Linked DNA regions of Homo sapiens: region 1 is linked to region 2. The links come from fine-mapping of genetic effects on gene expression. A gene starts in region 2. The other region holds a variant in brackets. All regions are shown on one strand. Distances are from middle to middle.

Region 1 (2,812 bases), 24 kb before region 2:
TACTCAGGAGACTGAGGCAGGAGAGTTGCTTGAACCCGAGAGGTGAGGTTGCAGTGAGCCGAGATCGCGCCACTGCACTCCAGCCTCGGTGACAGAGCGAGACTCCGTCTCCAAAAAAAAAAGATAACACCTGCATTCTCCAAAGAATCAATGTCACAAAAAAAGGTGTATGTGTGTAGATACATGGGGATCTGTATTTTAAAGGATTTAAAAAACAATAAACCAAATGCAATTTGTAAATCTTTGTAAGATGTACGATTTGAAAAAAACAAGTATAAAAGATTTTTTTTTTTTTTTTGAGACGGAGTCTGGCTCTGTCGCCCAGGCTGGAGTGCAGTGGCGCAATCTCAGCTCACTGCAAGCTCCGCCTCCCAGGTTCACGCCATTCTCCTGCCTCAGCCTCCCGAGCAGCTGGGACTACAGGCGCCCGCCACTACGCCCGGCTAATTTTTGTATTTTTAGTAGACACAGGGTTTCACCGTGTTAGCCAGGATGGTCTCGATCTCCTGACCTCATGATCCGCCCGCCTCGGCCTCCCAAAGTGCTGGGACTACAGGCTTGAGCCGCCGCGCCCGGCCGTAAAGATTTTTTTAAAAGCAGGGAAATTTGAATATCAGATGGACATTTGGAAATTGTTATTGATCTTCTTAGGTATGATAATGAAGTTTTAGTCTGGTAGGAGAATTTTTTTAGGAGATGAGGCTGAAGTACTTGGAGGTAACATGACATGATGTTTGAACTTATTTTCACATTGTTTAGAGAAGAGAGAGAGAGTGGCCGGGTGTGGTGGCTCATACCTGTAATTTCAACACTTTCGGAAGCTGAGGTGGGAGGATTGCTTGGGAAGGCAGCTTGAGGCCAGGAGTTTAAGACTAGTCTAGGCAATATAGAGAGACCTTGCCTCTTAAATTTTTTTTTTTAATTAGCCAGGCATAGTAGTGCGTGCCTGTAGTCCTAGCTACTCAGGAGGCTGAGGCAGGAGGATCGCTGGAGCCCAGGAGTTCGAGGTTGCAGTGAGCTGTGTTCATGCCATGGCACTCCAGCCTGGGTGACAGAGCAAAACTCTCTCTCAAAAATAGAAATAAAGGCCAGATGCAGTGGCTCACATTTGTAATCCCAGCACATGGGGAGCCCAAGGCAGAAGGATTGCTTGAGCCTAGGAGTTCAAGACCAGCCTGGGCAACATAGTGAGACTCCATCTCCACAAAATTTTTTTTTTATTATCTAGGCCTGGTGGCAAACAACTGTAGTCCCAGCTACTCAAGAGGCTGAGATGGGAGGATGGCTTGAGCCCAGGAGATGGAGGCTGCAGTGAGCCGTGATCACACTACTGCACTCCAGCCTGGGTAACAGAGACCCTGTTTCAAAAAACTAAAAATAAAGACCTAGGCATGGTGGTTCATGCTGTAATTCTAGCACTTTGGGAGATCAAGGCAGGCAGATCACTTGAGCTCAGGAGCT[T/C]GAGACCAGCCTGCGCCACATGGTGAAACATCATCTCTACAAAAAATAAGCCAGATGTGGTAGCACGTGCCTGTAGTCCCAGCTCCTTGGGGAACTGAGGCAGAAGAATTGCTTGATCCCAGGAAGTCAAGGCTGCAGTGAGCCAAGATCATGCCACTGCACTCCAGCCTGGGTGACAAAGTGAGACCGTGTCTCAAAAAATAATAATAAATAAAATTAAAAGTAAGAGGTCAGACACAGTGGCTCACATCTGTAGTTACAACCCTTTGGAAGGCTAAGATGGGAGGATCCCTTGAGCCTAGGAGTTCAAGACAAGCCTGGGCAACATGGAAAGACCCCATCTCTACAAAAAATGTTAAAAAAAAAAAAAAAAAAAGAAAGAAAAAAGAAAAAATGAAAATAAAAAATTCACCGGGCATGGTGGCATGTACCTGTGGTCCCAGCTACTTGGGAGGCTGAGGTGGGAGGATCACTTAGCCCAGGAGATTGAGGCTGCAGTGAGCTGTGTTGTGCCACTGCATTTCATTCAGCCTTGGTGACAGGAGAAGACCCTGTCTCCAAAAAAAAAAATAAAACAAAATAATAAAATAAAACACAGAGAGAGAAGTGAAATTGATAGTAGTTGAAGCTAAGTGGTGGGTATCTGATCAATTTTTCTGTATGTTAAATTTTTTCTTAATAAATGGTTAGAAAAAATTTTAAGTCAATTATGTACAAACTCAGTTTCCTTTGTACAGGAATTGTCCTCACTGCCAAGAAGACATTGTTCATTCCCATTGTGGTTATATTGACAACTGGGGGACAATGGGCTCTTTTACAGCATAGGCACATAATGTGTGTGTGGTTTTTTTTTTTTGAGAGAGAGTTTCGCTCTTGTTGCCCAGGCTGGAGTGCAATGGCGCGATCTCGGCTCGCCGCAACCTCTGCCTCCTGGGTTCAAGCGATTCTCCTGCCTCAGCCTCCCAGCCTGTAGCTGGGATTACAGGCATGCGCCGCCCCCGCCCAGCTAATTTTGTATTTTTAGTAGAGATGGGTTTCTCCATGTTGGTCAGGCTGGTCTTGAACTCCTGACCTCAGGTGATCTGCCCATCTCAGCCTCCCAACATGCTGGGATTACATTATGGTCCCCCATGCCTGGCCCATAATGTGTGTTTTAATCCTCATCAAAATGTCTCAGTACTTTATGAGAAGTTTTCTATTTTGTTTTTCAGTTTTGTGTTTTTTTGTTTTGTTTTGTTTTGTTTTTGTTTTGTTTTATGGAGTCTTGCTCTGTCACCCAGGCTGGAGTGCAGTGGCGTGATCTTGGCTCACTGCAACCTCCGCCTCCCGGGTTCAAGTGATTCTATTGCCT
Region 2 (2,812 bases):
TGATTCCTGCATGAACTCCTCAGCTTAGAATTCAAGGGACCCTTACCAACACAGCCCTCAAGCCTCTCATCTCCTGTTTTCCTGTGCTCCACCTGATCCCTTCAAAATGTTCAAAAATGCAACTGATTTGACTCCCACAACTATTTAGAACTAAATCTTTGTCACCAACATCAAATATCAAAGGCACTAAAATATATCCAAAAGGCAGGCTAATGGAAAAGACCCATCTCAGAAATCTGATGGGTCCTGAGACTAAATAACTCTAACCTATTATGACCTTCATAATAATTGCAATCATACTGTCACAAGATCTAAGGGAGAGAGAAACTGACAGGAGGAAGGCGGGTGAGAATGAATGAGAAAGTGGAAGGCTAGGATAAGACTGCTTCCGGCCTAAAGCCCCAGGCCTTCTGAACCTCCTGGTGTTCAGAACAATTTAACATTTTCAGAAGACACTAACACTAATCGATATCCTGCAGATGGTGAAGATAGAGAGTGTCTCAGCCTATGGTCACAGTAAAGACAGTGGCAAAACCAAACATAGAAACAACGTGTCCTGACTCCCAGCCCAGCACTCTCTGCCTCCTGCCAAGATGCCTCTACACCACAAATAACTACCCTAGTCTGTCTCAGGTGTTCCTAGATCTCTCCTCTGCCTTCCCTATATAAACTTTAGTTAAGTGTGTGACCACAGTAAGTACTTCAAGTGTAAGTCTTGGGTGTACGAAGTTAAATGTTCCTATCTTCAAATCAGACCAATGAGCACGACCCAGTGCGTTAACTATTGTAAGGAACGCGCCACAGGAGAGAAGCCCAAAGTTCTGCCTCGAGAAGCATAGAAAGGCTCCAGCATATCTCAAATACGTAAGCATGAGTATGTTTCGGCATGATGGCCATTCAGTAAATGCCAATTTGCAGTTTCTCCGTTCCTAACATCCCCTAAAGTAACGAGCAGAGTGGTCATCAGGAGTATATAAACGCAGGGCAAGCGCACAGCAAACATTGGTGCTGGGCCCTGAGCGCCCAGAACTTGCAACGTGCCCGACTCAGCAACGGAAAGAATCGCCCAGATTTAGAAGCATCCAACATAGTGCGAGAGTTTTCCCTGCTTTCCTTCTTTGAATGATCACTACAAACCCATGGGATCGGTGCTATTGTTATTCCTATTTTGCAAACGAGGAAACAAACGAGATTAGGCGTGGGCCTGCGATCACCAAGAAAAAAGTTTGGCGAGGTAGAGGCGGGAGCCCACGTCTGTCCCGGGTTCCCTCAACTACGCTGTGCAGCTCAAACGCGGCCGTGGCCGTGGCCGTATTGCGGGGCCGAGGCCTTAAAAGGCTGGACCCGCACTCACCCTTACTTCACAAGCTCCTCCCTGAAAGCAAAACGGGCCTTCTGAGACCAGGAACGAACTCAATCCCGAGTTGGCCAGGATCCAGGTGGGCCAGCCGCGCGTCTCTTGCCCGGCACCTAGCTCGGTTCCCACGGAAAGACCCCCGTCTCTCGTCCCAAGCCCCACAGGGTCCCCTCGCCGCAGGATGCCCCCCGATTGTCGCGCCCGGGCCTCCTACCTGCACGTCGTCTCCAGACTCCACACCGGAAAGAGAGAGTGGGAGGGGGCGGAGCGACGGGGGTCACTTCCGTGTCCCGGAAGTATACCTCTGAGGTCACGGGGCGAGGTCGGGTTCCGGAAGACGCCGGCATTATTCCTCCCAAAGAGTTTAAGACTCGTCATAAGGAAAGACGGTTTATTACTTAAGGGAGAGCGAAAAGAGGTAGAGGGCTGGTTGTCGCTGCGAGCGGGTCGGCCTAAGCGACAGTACGAAGCGGCTACACCCGCGGGGTGAGGTGGGCCTGTATTCCATGATGGCGGTGGTCGTGGCTAGACAGACTTCCGCCATCCTGACTCCCGCCCTGGCAGCCTTGGAGCGGCAGCGCCCCTTGTGTGGAGCAGGGGAATAACAACAACAAAACGGCCTTAATTAAAGCTAGGGTGGCGCCGGCCTGTGGTCCCAGTTACTCAGGAGGCTGAGGATCGCTTCGTCCAAGTAGTTCGAGGCCAGCCTAGGCAACATAGTCGGGGAAAACACACCGTAATCACTTACTTTGGCATATTATATAATGGGCAAAATAAGAATAAATTATTCAATATGTATTTTCAGACCGGTCTGGGCTAAACAGTTTATATGCATTGCTTCATTTACTCCTCAAGACATTATCAAATAATTTTGATTTCCCTCTTACAGATAAAGGATGTTAACTGAGAGCACACCTTTGCAGAAGGGTTTGGAATTCTAGCTTCAAAGCCCTCGTGTTTAATAGCTACTTCCACATAGCCCTCTAATAACAATATACATGTATATATTTCGACCGAATCTTGTTCTGTAGCCAAGGCTGGAGTGCAGTGGCGCAATCTCGGCTGACCGCAACCTCTGCCTCCCAGGTTCAAGCTATTCTGCCTCAGCCTCCCAAGTAGCTGGGACTACAGGCGCGTGCCACCACGCCCGACAAATTTTTTGTGTGTGTGTATTAGTAGAGACGGGGTTTTACCGTGTTGACTAGGGTGGTCTGGATTTTCTGACCTCGTGATCCACCTGCCTCGGCCTCCCAAAGTGCTGGGATTACAGGCGTGAGCCACCGTGCCCAGCCTCTAATAACAATATTGAAGGACCTTGAAGGCTTGGGAGAATATGTCGGAGCTGTGGGGAAGGGCCAAGAAGTGTACCTCACAGAGCTAGGCAAGCGGTAGATACATTTTATCTATGTACTATATGTAATATTTATATGGAATATATATAGTATTTTTGTATTA

Direction of the effects. Positions count from the first base shown, and alleles are read on the strand shown. Sizes are in standard deviations (SD) of each study's normalised expression.
With allele C in place of T in region 1, the expression in thyroid of the gene that starts at base 1,608 in region 2 is lower (small effect, 0.18 SD a copy in GTEx).

What was found. PIP is the estimated chance that this variant, and not a neighbour inherited with it, causes the effect. A credible set is the group of variants that fine-mapping cannot tell apart.
Region 1: its variant is the best candidate, but not a certain one, in a credible set for the expression of RPS14 in thyroid (GTEx, PIP 0.52).

The regions. Positions count from the first base shown.
Region 1 is chr5:150,424,106-150,426,917 of GRCh38, forward strand. LOC124901106 (a long non-coding RNA gene) reads left to right here. Exons shown (of 2, transcript XR_007058994.1): 2 at 1-240. Among named protein-coding and RNA genes, the nearest start is that of CD74, 13 kb to the left of the region's middle. The variant T/C (reference allele first, on the strand shown) is at 1,462.
Region 2 is chr5:150,448,132-150,450,943 of GRCh38, forward strand. It overlaps RPS14 (ribosomal protein S14), which reads right to left and starts at 1,608. Exons shown (of 5, transcript NM_005617.4): 1 at 1,572-1,608. RefSeq lists enhancers at 1,125-2,063, 1,677-1,996.